Regions from separate parts of the Homo sapiens genome. Here regions 1 and 2 are each linked to region 3. Evidence: fine-mapped expression QTL. A gene starts in region 3. Each other region holds a variant in brackets. All regions are shown on one strand. Distances are between the middles of the regions.

Region 1 (5,227 bases), 88 kb after region 3:
GTATGGACATCACAGAAAAATATGTGTTCTAGGGGAGGAAGGAATTGTTAGGCTAGTCAAGATGTGTCCAGTGGGTCAGGTCATGGGCAGAACTCAGTCCCTGCTGTGACATTCTGGGAAAGATGAGAAGTGGAATTCCAAGGTAGTGAACCCCATGTGCCAACTAGGGAAAGGGGTAAAACATCAGTGGTTGTGGACAAGGTGAATGAGTTTTGTGGACTGAGCTGTCAATGAATTCTCCACAGTGAACACTCACTATATGTATTTGTTCAATAAGCAGACACAGTGAACAAAGATTGCACAAATACTGGAAATATGGTAGTAAGCAAGGCAGAAGGGTCTCTCCTGTCAAAGATAAGCAAAGCTGGGCACTGGTTAAAGTGGTAAGGACAGATTTTAATCAGTAATAACTATCGTGATAGGGAAAAAGTACAGCATGAACTGAACTGAACTTCAATTTGTACATTGGCAATTGGGAGTCTTAAAGGTAGAATGAGGGAAAGGGAGAGGGGTGAGCAAGGGCTTAGTACAATCAGGGAAATGGATAAATACAAAAAGTGGGAAGGAAGGGTTGGTCCATGAAAAACCCATCTGTTTTTTTGCTAACTTGTGCTGAATGAAGTTAAGCTCCCACCTTCCCACAGAAACTGGAAGACAGCACTTTATCTTCATGTGTTAGCTGGAACCAACAGTGAATTCTTTCAGCAGCCTTAAGTTTTCTCAAGCTGGCACTTTCAAGGGGACTAGGGTCATCCCAGGGTTATGTCCTTGAGCTGTCAGAAACTGTGTTAGTGCATGATCATAGTCTTTATCAGCCAAGGTTGAGCCTCGTCAATAAGAGGGCTCAGATCATGGGCAAATCTATTCTGGAGGGCTGGAGTTTGGTCAAGAAGAGAGACTTCTCATTTCCCTTGTGAAACATCATTCTCTCCAGAAATTACAGGGTAACACTATTTTTTTTTTTTTTGAGACAGGGTCTCACTCTGTTGTTCACGCTGGAGTGCAGTGGCACAATCTCAGCTCACTGCAGCCTCAACCTCCCAGTTCAAGTGATCCTCCTACCTCAGCCTCCTGAGTTGCTGGGACCACAGGCATGGCCACCACCATGTCCTGTGGCTAATTTTTATATTTTTTGTAGAGACAGAGTTTTGACATGTTGCACAGGCTGGTCTTGAACTTGTGGGTTCAAGCAATCTAGCTGCCTTGGCCTTCCAAAGTGCTGGATTACAGGTGTGCACCACCAGGCCTAGCTGAGAGTTATGCTTTAATGAAATGTCTGATGAAATCTTTTCATCAGTATCTCTTTATGGTAGAGTGCTCGTTTTGTACTTTAGATGTTCCTAGCAGGATTGGTAAAGAGGAAACTTGTCAACTTTCCATGAAATTAGTTAATGTGGGAAATTCATGCAAGAACCACACTGAGTCAGGTGTAACATGTAAATGAGATCCTCCCATTTTGGGCACGCTTGTTTCACTGTGCTCAAAACGTCTGCTAAGATTCTCAATAGTCCACTTTTCACTGGGCATCCCAGAATGATCTATGTAGGTCATGTTCTTGATGTATGTCGTATTCTGAAGGTCTGAACTCTTCAAAATCAATGATTCAGATAAGTCATTTCAAACACATGCACACATTTCCCCCCAGATTTTAATTTTGACAAGATGACTTGAATAGTTTCAGAACCAACTGCGGCCCTATCTGGAGATAATTTCTGACTTCAGTCTCCAAGCACTACCTTCCTACCATTTTTGTATTTTCAAAGTGGGAAACTCGTAATGTCAGGACACAATAAAATATGAGCAAAAGTGGAACCTGAGTTCTGATTTCATCTCAGTCACACTTTCTCTAAGATACAGGAGAAGTCAACACTTTGGGGTATTAATTTCCTACTCAATTCAGTGGTACGAGTGCAATGAGATGTTCCCAGATGGAAGGGCACTGTGAAGACCAGAACATGCTATGCACCTGCTAGTTTCCATGGACTTCGTAAGCAGTTTCCATGGACTTCGTAAGCGTGCATTGAGCCTGAAGGACACAGCACTGGATTAGGTACTGTGGGTGACGCAAACTATGTAGAAGACTTGATTCCTATCCTTAAGATACTGACAATCAATTTGGGTTGATGATATAAAGAATTAAAAGTGAAAAAGAGTGATACTACAATTTTTGTTGTTGTTTTGTGTTTATTTTAGGGGAAGGAGTTGAAAGGAGCATTAATACTCTTTTTTTTTCTTTTGTCGTAAGCCCTATATCAGAGTGGCTAGAAAACATACTTATATTTAATATGCATTATGATTGATTAGTACACAGGATGCAAAGTTAAGTAGTGATCTGACCACATACACAAGGAGATCCAGACATATCCTTCTCTGCTGCAGTGTGTGATGATGATCAGGGGGCCATGTGGTGTCTGTCTCCACGGGGCCTTTTGCCCGGAACGATGACGACTGATAGGCTCTCACTGGGGAATGTTACCATTCAGAAGGGCCTTTTCTTCTTCTAAGAGAGGCATTAGATACTCAAAGTGGATCAAAATCTCATTTCTTCCTCATCTTCGGCTAAAAGGTTCACTTATTTGTCAATTTAAAAGCAACTGGGGTTCAAAGTCCTGTTAGTTCACAGTCCTTGACTTCTTGTCTGTTCTGGCCCCTTATCAATACTCTTCAGAGGGGGCTGTGGCAATACAAAAGGAGCAAAGAGCTATTGTGTGCATCTTACAGAGGTCCTTGGC[A/T]TTCCACACCGGGCATGCCAGGTCGTCTCCTTTCCACCCCGTTGCCCTCACATGAAGCAGTGGTTGAGGACTGAGTCTGCAGCGAGTGCAAAGCAGTGAAGCAGTCGGGACACAGTGTTCCTGCGGTCTGCTTTCCTCTAGTGTGAAAATTACGCTGCATCCCTCTGGGAGAAGCATTTGCAGCCTAGGAAGGGGGTGGTGCTCATAATAAAAACTCGCTGAGAAGCCAAAATCCTAGGCCTGATTTTCCTTTGGTTTGAAATGCATACTGTTGCAAGGGCAAGTGACCTTCTGTTATTGACGAAATACCTTGAACATTTCTTTCACAGTCTGTTGCTGCCATGCCTGACCGAGCAAATCCTGCTTAATTCCTCTGCTCCCTAGAGGAATGCCTCAGGACCACACTGGAAAAAGTGAATGATCGATTAATGATGAAATTGGCCAACTTGCCAATAACGATAAATTGCTTTGTTCATCCCACAGCAAGGATGCCAGCTCAGTGTGTTGCCTGTGCCTAGAGACAAAGGATGGGAACTCTGGTCAAAATTAACATAGATGAGCTTTCAGACCTATACTGAGCACAATGACAACAATGAGTGACTCACATGTCTGTCTCGTTTTTGACCAACTTAAAATGTTTCACACAGCCTTATGATCAGATATTTATATTTGCAGAAGAAATACAATGGTAGCAGTCAAAATTTGGTTACAGCAGGCTTCTTTCTCTTTTATTTGGGTGGATGTGAGTGTCGTGGATGAACATGCAAATTTTAATGTGTATAAAACTCTCTGAAGACAACAAAACCACTAGAAGATCCACTAGGAATCTGCAGTCCCCTTGAGAAAATAAAATCTGCACATGAAACAACATAAAAATAAATACAAAACGACATGTCAACAAGGACAAATTACCAAACAGTCACTGTTTTTATTTAGTATTTTTGAAATCATGGAATGAATTTTTTTTAATTTAAGGGTAATAATTACCCTATACAATATTTTAGAAATAAATAAATCTAATAAATAAAGATGAAAATAACTACTAGCAGCAATCTACCCCCCAGGAAAAAGAAAAGAAACCATTTGTGGATAATGATAAGGGAGAACAAAATTTTAAAATAAAAAAAGAAAAGCAATCACTTGACATTTTAAAGTAATTATTTCTGGGCTTTAAAACAATGTTGTAACTTTATTCATGGAAGAGTGCTTTACCATAATCTCTTTATCTTTTTTTAAAAAAAATTAATTGTGGTAAAATAGGCATCATATAAAATTTACCATCTTAACCATATTTAAGTGTACAATTCAGCAGTGTGAAGTATATTCACATTGTTGTACAACTAATTCTGGTCTTTTTAAAAAGACATATACTCATTGATATGGTAGATTTTAAAATTATATTTATTGTTGCAAGTAACATTTTTTCCTAGTATCAAAAATAACCCATGTTCAGTACAGAAAACTTAAAAAATACCATTCATCTAATCCTAAGAAAGAAATAATGGTAAATTTTACTGGTTTGCCTTCCAGCATCTTTCTTTGTGAGTACATGTATAGATCTAGGTCTGTATGTATACATCATTAATATTTGCATCTATAAAGACAAAATTACATCAAAGATATCACATGCCTTTTCCTTTAGCACTATTTTGTGAATTATCTTATGAAAATAAATAAGCCTGTGTATATAGTTTTCTTTTCCTTCTTCTTTTTTTTCAGAGACAGGGTCTTGTTCTGTCACCCAGGCTAGAGTGCAGCAGGGCAATGATAGCTTACTAAAACTTAGAACTCCTGGGTTCAAGCAAAAAAACTTAGAATCCCCAGGCTCAAGTGATCCTTCCTCCTTGGCCTCCCAAGTAGCTAGGATTACAAGTGCACACCACCACGCTTGGCTAATTTTTAAAATTTGTTTGTAGGGACAGAGTCTCGCTATGTTGCCCAGGCTGGTCTCAAACTCCTGGCCTCAGCGATCCTCCCACCTTGGCCTCCCAAAGCACTGGAACTACGGGCTTGAGCCACCACACTCAGCCTTGTGTATATAGTTTTGTTGCCTGATTTTTATTCTCCCATTTTCCACTTTAGTATGAGCATTTTGTGGTTACTATATATGAGAAGGCCAGAGTAATTTAAAGTAAAGGGAGGAAGTGAATTTATGATGAGAAAGCTTTCTGGAGAAGGCCCTGAAGCCCCCTCATCCACTGCCCACCTGCTGGCTACCTCCCAGGCACTTGGGCCTCTGATGCACTTAACAGGCTACAGGCTGGATTCACTTTCTACCATAGGCATGGGTCAAGGGCAAATTCCGTCGGTTTTAGTGCAGTGGGTCCACTCAACTGTTGAAAATCAGGCTTCCTGCCTCTTGATTTCTTTCTGGAAATGCCCTCTTATCAGGTTATAAGATAATGGTGCTCTTTCTGAGCAGCAAGCATTGAAGGCAAGAGGAGATGATACTGAAGGGCAATTACTTACCTGCTGTCTACTGAGATATTATGTTT
Region 2 (5,227 bases), 93 kb before region 3:
AGAGTTCTTTAAAAATGCTGTCCCCTCGTATGACCATAAAATGAGGCTGATTTATAATTGTCTGGATAATGCATTGTGACAACATGGGTTTTGAAAAGCAGAAAGCAGCTGCATGGTAGTGTTTCAGAAGCGAAGAAAGGTGGATCCTTAGTTCCCGAAATTGCTGTCAGAAGGTTAAGAAACAGGTTGTATAAATGTAATAAAGTACTAATAACACCAGGGTGTTCGATTTCTGCCAGTATGTATCCAGAATTAGAATGTTTTTAAAGCCAGAAGGGACTTCAGAGAAATCATTTAACCCAATTAATACCATGTTATTGGAATTAGTAGTTTGGCCAGGAAGGAGGAAAAAAGAGAGTGATTTAATCCTCAGAGCTATAGAACTGTGGACCAGTATCATCTTAAAAACAGCTATATAGGTGGAGGAAAGGATGTTTGGATAATTAAGATTAACAGTCTCTTTATCATTAGGACTTTAAACAGAGTTGTTAATAGCAAAAATATTGATTTTTGAATTTCAACTCTTGCTAGTTCTTGCAGATTTGTTCTACTTATAATATGAGTAAGAAGGAAAATGGTTATTAGACAAGGGAAAATATCAATATGGTTGATAATGAGACAAACCAAGCATTGATTGTAGAACTTGAAATCTCTTTTAACACAATCGCTAAATATTTAAAGAAATTTGGTTGTTTCATTGAGTTTTTGGATCAGATAATTTAGAGAGCTGAAGATCAATTTCTGTTGCAGTTCAGAACCCTGAAGAAGAAACTAGAAGAGGGAATGGTGTTCACAGAATATGAGCAAATTCCAAAGAAAAAGGCGAATGGCATTTTCAGCACAGCAGCTCTGCCAGAAAACGCCGAGCGCAGCCGAATCCGTGAAGTTGTCCCCTATGAGGAGAATCGAGTAGAGCTGATACCAACCAAAGAAAATAACACAGGATACATTAATGCCTCCCACATCAAGGTAAGAAGGCAAGCCTGTTAGAAGGTTTGGTAAAGATGGCTGGGTTAAAGGGAAAAATGCGGGGAGAAGAAAATGTGTGGGCTGCAGTTGTACCTTTTGGCTTGTCCCCAGACCCTCAGGGATTGTTTTTGAACTCCTGTGCTTTTCTTAGTCAAGTGGAAGGGCATGTCTATCACTGCAGAGAGAAGGAAGTCTAGCAGCCTCAGGAAGAACTTCAGGTCAGCGATTTCTGAAGCTCGCTCATTACAGAGGCTTTAACTTTTCCTTCTCTCTGTGGGCTGTAACTCTCTCTATACTCAGATTATCCTTTTCAGTTTGTAATTAGCAGGTGCTGGAGACTTTGGAAGTTACAGGTATTGCGTTACTGACATAAAAGTGTCATGTTCAATAACAATAGAAACTATTGTTTTTCCCTTATAATACTGCAGGTTATGCATTTTATAAAAGCGCGAGTCCTATTATTGCATGGTATTTAGAAGAGTGGAGTAATTTTCACCTACACTATAAAAGTGTGGTTAATATTGAATCTTGAAAGATTTGCCACATTAGTCAATGAATTTGTGTTACTAAATTTTTGTTGTTATTTCAAATACTTCAAACCTTTATATGTCAGTATTACATAGTTTAGCACTTCTGCAGTTAAAACTTTGACTTATGGATACATGTGTACCTGTAGTTAAATGTTTCTTAAATAGCTTACCTTCCTCAGAGTCCCTGTTAACAGAGGGACACTTATTTAGAATGTCACCATTTGCTCTGAACTCTGAAGTGGGAGATTTGTTCATCTATTAATGTTAAAGCCAGTGTTATAGGTGTTGTTAAATAACACAAGGTTCAATTGATAGTCCACTGTGATCAATAGCCTTAGAAACCTGTTTTCGGCCTTGTCTAGAATTACTTACTTTCCTCATTGGACTTTTCAACTGTAGCAGAATTATTAACAGGTTTTTTTAAGCCTGTAAAAGGCGAGTTAGATATCTAGCTTGTGTATCAATTATAACTAGTTTTGATACAGAATGGGAAAAGTATAGTATGGTTGGGTATATACTATTTTTATTAATATACACAGATAACCATAGTTTTTAATAATTAGAAAGTACTGTCAAAAGAAATATAAAAGAGTAACTATCATAGATCATATTACTAATTTTAACTTGGATTTTTGAGAGTGAGAAGTAAAAAGTGAACTCTAGGAAACTCTTAAATAAACTGTCAGTGGTGGGTTTCATGGGCTTAGTTTACATTATGAAACAATGACCAAAGTAATGTATTCCAACAAAGATGCAGATCACACAGCTGCTTCCTGATAGAGTGTCTATGAAAATCTTACATAGAAATATTATATTATCTTCTTCTTTTGGCCAGATCTCTTCCACTATTTTCCATCTGCTCTCTGAAAAAAGCTGTCACTTTGTATAAACTGTGCCCATCGGGCATTGTTAACCGAGGAGCATTCCCTTCCTTGGTATTCTCTGTGGCCCACATTTCATCCTGTGGATCCGGGTTAGACATGGGTGCATTTCATAGACCCGTGGACCTTGCAAGAACTTGTCCCTGTGTTTTGGAATAGAGGAGTATATTTTGCCAGTGTTTTCCCCCCTGGGTTCCAAGCAGCCGTTAACA[C/A]AGAACAGAGATTTATTTGCTCCAGAGGTGGAATCACATGTGTGAAATCTACCTCAGCAGCACTGCTTGTTGTGTTTTTAATGCAGTTTTTAATACCCTTCTGTCAATACTTGGAATATACTGAAAGGCCCCAGGCAGCAGCAGCATTCTCTGGAAGTATTTATGTTTCCTATACGTTGGGTGCCAGAGAGGCTAATGTTTAAAATCACAATTCCACGGATAAACCAAACTCCTAGCCAGCAAATATATGAATGTTATCTCCCACCAGTATTTGGAAAATGGATTTTTCTTGCCAGCTTTGACCTAAACATGCCTTGTGTAATGAGACAATAACTTACATTGTTTTTGTTTGAACCAAGTTAGCATACAGTTTTATCAAATAAATGAGGGGAAAAAGTTTCAAACAATGATTACTTCATTACTTTTTGAACTCTCCAGAGATCTGCATTGTATAGATGTAGAAGGGACCTGACTTTGCAATATCAAGGCACAGACCTGGAAGGGAGAACAGAAAGAATTCCTCCAAAGGCCACCATTTCACCTTGACAGCATGACCTTTAACACTTTGGGTACAACTTCTTATTTATGGTTCTCAGCAGCTAGTATTTATAGCTGTAGAATTATCTTCCCCTGATCACCCTGAGCTGCAGGGGTAATAATTTTATTATCCAAAGTCATGTCATGACTGTAGTTCAGTTGGATGCTGTGGTACTACCAAGGTGAAGCTATTGATAAAATATATGCTGTTGACAAGAGCATTCGTAGCATCTCTGCCGTGCATGGCACCACAGAGCAGCAGTGACAGCAGAGGTTTATGATACACTTCATCTCAGATCCACAGGAGAAAGATAGTGCTCCAAAAGGGATGTTGTTTCATGATCTTTTTTTTTTTTTTTATTGTTTAATTGGATGCCATGAAGCACTGCTTTTCAAACTGGATTACAACACAGTGGTAGAATGTGAAATCAGTTTAGTGGTCATGACCAGGTGTGTGTGTGTGTGTGTGTGTGTGTGTGTGTGTGTGTGTGTGTGTGTGTTTCAATGAAATCGACTAGAAAAGAGAAAAGAATGGAAAGTGTTAGAGTACATTGCACATAGTAAGCAGTAACTATTATTTCTGTAACAAGTAAATCCTAAGTTATACATGTTCATATATATGCATCTATACATGTGTGTATGTGTATGGTTTTTAATAGGCACTAGTTTGCATATACTGTGAGTTGCAAACAAAGATCAGGTAAAGGCCAAGCCTGGTGGCTCAGGCCTGTAATCCCAGCACTTTGGGAGGCTGAGATGGGCGTATCACCTGAAGTCAGGAGTTCAAGACCAGCCTGGCCAATGTGGTGAAACGCCATCTCTACAAAAATACAAAAATTAGCCGGGCATGATGGCGAGTGCCTGTAATCCCAGCTCCTTGGGATTCTGAGACGGGAGAATTGCTTGAACCCAGGAGGCGGAGGTTGCAGTGAGCCAAGATCGTGCCACTGTACTCCCGCCTAAGCAGCAGAGCAAGACTCAGTCTCAAAAACCAGGATTAGATAAATATTTAATAGGCTTGAGTGGCAAAAAGTATTTTCATGTGAGAATGTGTCACTACACTAGCCTCTGTAGTCTCAGGGTTTTTGTTCATTGAACTAATTCATTCGGCCCCAAAAATATATCCAAGGTTTTAAGGTGGATACAGATGGACAGGTGATCAGCAGGTAATGTTGTCCGGACTTGGGGTTTATTTACCGATACTTTTCTTGGTTTTTAGGTGGTGGTTGGCGGGGCAGAATGGCACTACATAGCCACCCAGGGGCCCCTGCCACACACGTGCCACGACTTCTGGCAGATGGTGTGGGAGCAGGGAGTGAATGTGATTGCCATGGTCACTGCAGAGGAGGTAAGGGGAATGGCCTACTCCACATCCTTTTTCCCCAGGGGAAAGGGTGGCCAGAAGATGGGCTTTGTGCTGTCAACTTTGCTACCCTATCCTTCTTCCTGCAGTGCTGTTTCTCTGCACATGCTTTTCTCTTTGGTATACATCTGTTTTCTTACTTCCAGATAGATATTTTTTCCCCTGGAGATAATTGATTGTTGTAGCTTTTCCTCCTCCCATTTTCATCTGGCTTTTAACTCTTTTCCTTGGATTGTAATGCACTAAACTGAAAATAAAACAACAGAAAACCAAAAATGACAGACTTTAGTTCAACCTGCTGACTTTCTGTGCCAAACGAAAACAGTGATCTTTCCACTGGAATTTGGGAGTCTCAGGCTGCTCTGGGCAAATCGACATAGACGCCCAACTCCAGGCACCCAGCTCCACATGCCATCATCCTTATCAGCTGAAAAGAGACCAGAAGCCGTTGTTCCTGGAGAGTCCTCTGTTCTTTGGGGGAAGAAAAAATATCTTTTTCTTCTTTTGCCAAGCCAAACATAGTTTTTCTGCTGTAACTAGAGAACTCTATGTGATGTTATAAAAAACCAGCCTACACTGCCAGTCAATCCAGTCGGTGTTGAGCTTGCTGTCTTTGTGGGGAGAAGTGTTGTATTTCTTCTCTTGTCACATTCTCAAAATTTCTTTAACCACCTTCTTTTATTTCTTTCATTAAATTCCAATTTATGTTTTGAAATCATTCAAGGGACTAGTTTC
Region 3 (5,227 bases):
ACTGAGAAATGTGATACAAATTAAAAATTCCCCAAAGCAAACCTTTGTCTGAATTGCCCTGACCGTAAGAATCCCATTCTGTTGAGACTTAAGACATTTTCCATTATTTCTCAATTTATAGCATATACTTATTCCTACCTAAAGAAATCACTTTTCTTTTCTTCAAAAAAAGTTAGATCCTGATACAATTAGTATGACATGGAAATTCTTGGGTCATTCATTTATCTTAAGCAGTATTGTTTATGTTAAACTTCTGGCAAAAGAAAGGATAAGGGGTAGCTTTCTTTTGGGTGTGTGGAGCTGGGGCAGGCAGCAGATTTTGACCTGTAAGTATGAACATTTCCAGAATTCTACTCCTATACTTTGAGGCCCTATGGAGGAAAATACACGTTCCCCTCATACATCTGGACAGACTGATTTGTCCTAAGTCATATACAAATTGCTGACAGAGGAACTGATGCTGAATCTATCAGATGACCTAACCACTAATAGTAAATGATTCAGATTTAATAGAAATCATGAAGTAGGGTACAAGGATATTTCTAATTGCATAAGTATCATGGATATTATTTCTTTTGTATTATTTTAATTGACTTCAAATAATTCTTTGGGGAGAGAGAGGAAATAAACTACGGGTATTGACATAAGGTCAGGGAAATCAAACAGAGAAGTGGTTTGCAAGTTGTAATAACACCCCATTGCAAGTTGCAGCCCTGGTGAGGGACCCAAGGCAACAGTGAGTAACACTAATAAATGTCAATCAGAAAAATTTAACAACAAAAGAGGCAGCAAACTGTCACATATGGCAGAATAATCCAGGCTGAATGCTTTGTGAACTTGCATCTGACCATCCATTAATGTTCTAAGGTTGGGGGTATGCGTAGTAGATACAATTAGGAGACTTAAAGCTAAAGAGAAGCATCTCTCAGTTCTTCTCATCCCTTCTAAATCCAGAGGGATTTGATCTTTCATTCACTGGGGGCCAGGGCTGGCAACTACCCATATAAAGTAAGCACCTACTATGTGCCTGGCATCCATGGTCTTAGGCGATGGCTTCCAGGAATTGCCAGGATCCCTGATGGAGGCTCCTTCTGTGCTGCCTGACCTGCTTTGCTCCTGCCACTGCAGACACCCACGCTGCTGCAGACTCCGAGCCACAGCAAGGCTCAGAAGATCAAGGGACCAGTCACAGCAGCCTTTTTAACTTTGGGAAAACCCAATGCTCACTTCACTCAAACGTTGCAAAGTGGTGCCATGACCCTTTAGCTCTTGGCTCACCAATTCAAAGAGCCACATCACATACAGCCCTTAAGCTGCCCACGGCATGATTCCGTGTCTAGTTCCTTTCCAGGTCCCCCCAAGCGGAAGACAGTTCTGGCAGGGAGTCTGGGCAAGATTACTACAATATTTAGCCTTTGTCCCTTCTTTTGCTACGTCTTATTGTAGAATGAGGCACACAGGTCTGAGAGATTGAGTATGCTGGACTTGAGACCTGTACTCAAAAGGTCCCTGCAGGACCGCAGGTCAGCTTAATCCAGCCCAGGAATCTCCATTTCAAAGATGAAGAAACTGAGGTTCAAAGAAAGCAAATCATGGTCTCTACTCAGAGTACTGGAAGGCCTGATATAAACTTAACCCCAATGCCATGCCTCCTGCCTTAGTAAATTTACTGAGCACCTAACCAGTGAGAAATAGGCAGAAGTGAATAAGGCCAGATTTCACTCCCTTCACTACTGGTGTGAATGGATAAAGGTAACTCCACTTTCTCTCTGGGCTTTAGTTTTCTCATCCATTAAGTGAAAGACAAGACTGAATTGGTGATTTCTAATGTGCCTTTAAGCTCTGAAACTCTCATAAGAGTTGAGGATATAATTATGTGTTGGTGTGTGCAAATGTATATGCATCATATATACAAACACAGACACATATATACATATGGTATCTTACAATTAAATACCATTAGCAACCACACATCTTGCCCAATCCCTTCCTGCGACCATGTTTTCCTAATCCCAAACCGAAACTGGACACTGCAACTCATCGTCGCAGCACCTCAGAATCCAGGGGGTGTGGTCAGTGCCCACTGGCGTCCCTCCAAACACCCATGTAAGCGTACTTTAACATGTAAGCGTACTTTACAAGACATATACTAAGTCATTAAATTCCTTGGAAGAAACGGCCAATCTGAGGCAGGGCTGGACTGTGGGTAACAGAACACACCGCAGGAAGCATAAGTTAAAGGTGACAGCCCGTGGCTGCCCAAATTTGGGGCTCCGCTGCCAATGCACCGGGAGGGCAGTGAGTGCCCAGGCTTGGAACAAGCCTGGCTCGGAGCCCACATTTGAGGGCAGGAACCTGCACGCCCGGGTTTGCGCATCCAGCGTGAGCAACTCTGAAAACGTGCAGTGCAGGGCGTGCAGCGGGGCACCGGTCCTGTTTCCTCTCGCACGTGGCGCCTGGCGTGGGGCTGCAGCGCGGGGCCGCAGCGCGGGGCCTCCTCCCCTCCCCGCCCCCCACCCCGCCCCAAGGGCCGGCGCTAGGACCCCGCGAGCCGCACGCACTTCCTGGCGCCGCCGTCCAAGCCTCCCGCTCGGCGCCCCCGGCTCCCGCCCGCCGCCGCCGCCGCCGCCGCCCTACCTGGTGAAGCAGTACTCGCAGTGGTTGCCCCGCTCGTTGACCGTGAGCACGTAGGCATAGGCCGGGCAGGAGAACAGCAAGTCCCCCACCTGGAAGGGCTGCAGAGCCCGCAGCCCCCGGCCTTTGCCCGGGCTGCAGAAGCGCTCCAGGCCGCCGAGGCCCTCGGCCCTCATGGTGGCGGCGGGGCGCGGCCGCCGGCTGTGCCCGAGCTGCGGCTCCCGGCGAGCTGTTATTGGAGACGCGTCACCTAGAGCTGCGGGGGGCGGGGTGGGAGCCGCCCGGCGGACGCGGCGGCGGCTCCCCGCTCCCCGGAAGGGAGGGCGGCCCCGCCCGGGCCTCGCGCGCCCCCGCGGGGAGGGGGACGGGCCCGGCGGCCCCGCCTAGCGCCGCGACCCTCGGCGGCCGCCCCGCGCGCGCTCCGGGCCGTTTCCGGTGTGGCCGCGACAAAGAGCCGCAGCCCCTGTGGCTTCTGCGAGGAGGCGTGAGGCGTGTGCGCCTCCGCGGCGTCTCCACGGAGCGAGCGGGACGCGCCCTCCTCCTCGGTGGGAGGGAGGGGGGTCACCTGCGGGGACCAGGTATCCGAGGGCCACCCCTAGACAGTCAGCCTGGCCCGAAGGATGACCAGCCCCCGGTAAATAGAAGGGGGCGAAGCCAGCTCCGAAACCTTACGTTCGCTGTCCCTTGTAAAGACCCTAGAGGCAGTGATCGGGGAACGCCAAGGAGAAAGCGGCAGAGGGGAAACCACAGTAGAGAAGTTTGGTGTGCAGAGGGTTGAAGTGTGCTTTTCCAAGGTTAGAGGTTTTTAAACCTTGTGGCTTTAATGGGAACGTAGTTTGCCCTCTGCTCCTCTAGTGGAATTACATGGACGGAAGAGGAAATGCATTGGCCGGCCCAGCTCACCGAGTCTCTGAGGCATGCTGCGAACGTTGCAGAGGAAGCCAGAGAGAACCTTGCCTTCAAGGAATTTAGGCTGTTGGGGGATAATGCGATGCTGTGGCCAGTGTCCAGGACACTGCGCTAGAGTTTGCAGTAGTTTTAATATGCTTGACCACCCACGAACTGTGATCTTAGAAAAGTCACTTGGGTTAGGAGTCAAAGGATTTAAAGCCCACAAAGCCTGAAACGTAAATCCTATACACATGCACGCTATTACTTTTCATATGAGAAAGGAAAATATAATCCGTGTTCCACATGATTATGTAAAGACTGGAATTGATGTACATGCAGTAAAGACTAAAATTGTGACGAGATCATTTAGCAGAAACCACTACTTCAAAATAGGACCTCAAACAGTTACCTGTGTAAGTTCAGGACTGGTTGAGCAAAGGGAAAGGATTAATATGATTGGAGATGTAAAATCAGTGGAATTTTTGGCATTTCAGTAAAATGTCTTTATCAGCTGGGTGTGGTGGCTCAGCCCTGTAATCCCAACACTGTGGGAGGCCAAGGTGGGAGGATCATTTGAGCCCAGGAATTGGAGAGTTGGAGACCAGCTTGGGCAACATAAAGACCCCGTCTCTATGGGAAATTAACCACCTCTCAAGTGGTGCTGAGGTGGGAGGATAGCTTGAGCCTGGGAAGTCAAGGTTGCAGTGAGCTGTGGTGACTCCATTATACTCCAGCCTGGGTGACAGAGCAGGACCTTGTCTCAAAAGAAAACAAAAAAGCCCTTATTAGTGGCAAACTAAATAAGCCTCTAACCCGTCTTCAAGTAAAGGAAGTTATGATAGTATTTTCATTTATGCATTTTAAGAAACTTCGACTGACTATGGCCAGCAACTGGGATAGAAAGATGGACATCAGCCGGCTGTGGTGGCTCACGCCTGTAATCCCAGCACTTTGGGAGGCCGAGGTAGGCGGATCACCTGAGGTCGAGAGTTCAAGACCAGCCTGACCAACATGGAGAAACCTCATCTCTACTAAAAATACAAAATTAGCCAGGTGTGGTGGTGCATGCCTGTAATCCCAGCTACTCGGGAGGCTGAGGCAGGAGAATCGCTTGAACCTGGGAGGTGGAGGTTGCTGTGAGCCAAAATCGCACCATTGCACTCCAGCCTGCGCAAGAAGAGCGAAACTCTGTCTCAAAAAAAAAAAAAAAAAAAAAGTGGACAAAATGTAGTCCTAGGTCCTTGCATTTGGCACATTCAAGTTTGATAATACCATTAGTTATTGAGTATTGTTGACCAGGCATCGTGCTCCATCATTAAACACATTATCTGGTTTATCTTTACAACAGGCTAATGAGTTAGGTATTATGCCCCTCATTGCCAAAATTAGGAAGGAAACTAAGACCCAGAAGGAATGATTTTCAAGGCCACACAATAAATTGCAGAATTTGGTTTCCAAGTCAGTCTGAATTCAAGGTCCATGTTCCTAACCACAGTGTTTTGCTGCAAACAAACACAGTTCACTGGGATAAGTGCAGTTATGGTGGCTTGTACAAAATGTTCTGTGGTAGTACAGGCAGGGAGTGACAGCTTTAGCCTGCTAAACAGTCAAGACAGGCATCACATTCAAGTAACGTTAGAGCTGAGCCTGAAGGATGGACAGGATTTTGCAAGTGGAGGTGGGGAGAAGAGTTTTCTGGGCA

Direction of the effects. Positions count from the first base shown, and alleles are read on the strand shown. Sizes are in standard deviations (SD) of each study's normalised expression. Not every link is listed here.
For the expression in thyroid of the gene that starts at base 2,906 in region 3, T is the low allele of the variant in region 1 and A is the other (small effect, 0.21 SD a copy in GTEx).

What was found. PIP is the estimated chance that this variant, and not a neighbour inherited with it, causes the effect. A credible set is the group of variants that fine-mapping cannot tell apart.
Region 1: its variant is the best candidate, but not a certain one, in a credible set for the expression of SMYD2 in thyroid (GTEx, PIP 0.78).
Region 2: its variant is the best candidate, but not a certain one, in a credible set for the expression of SMYD2 in tibial nerve (GTEx, PIP 0.87).

What each region holds. Positions count from the first base shown.
Region 1 is chr1:214,191,080-214,196,306 of GRCh38, reverse strand. No RefSeq gene overlaps it. Among named protein-coding and RNA genes, the nearest start is that of LINC02775, 82 kb to the right of the region's middle. RefSeq lists an enhancer at 2,918-3,484. The variant A/T (reference allele first, on the strand shown) is at 2,733.
Region 2 is chr1:214,371,961-214,377,187 of GRCh38, reverse strand. PTPN14 (protein tyrosine phosphatase non-receptor type 14) reads left to right here. Exons shown (of 19, transcript NM_005401.5): 15 at 751-969; 16 at 4,349-4,477. Among named protein-coding and RNA genes, the nearest start is that of SMYD2, 93 kb to the right of the region's middle. The variant C/A (reference allele first, on the strand shown) is at 2,593.
Region 3 is chr1:214,278,838-214,284,064 of GRCh38, reverse strand. SMYD2 (SET and MYND domain containing 2) reads right to left here and starts at 2,906. Exons shown (of 12, transcript NM_020197.3): 1 at 2,638-2,906. The coding sequence starts at 2,810. It overlaps LOC124904509 (a long non-coding RNA gene), which reads left to right and starts at 3,029. Exons shown (of 2, transcript XR_007066876.1): 1 at 3,029-5,227. RefSeq lists silencers at 2,487-2,646, 2,677-2,796, 2,817-3,106 and an enhancer at 3,386-3,951.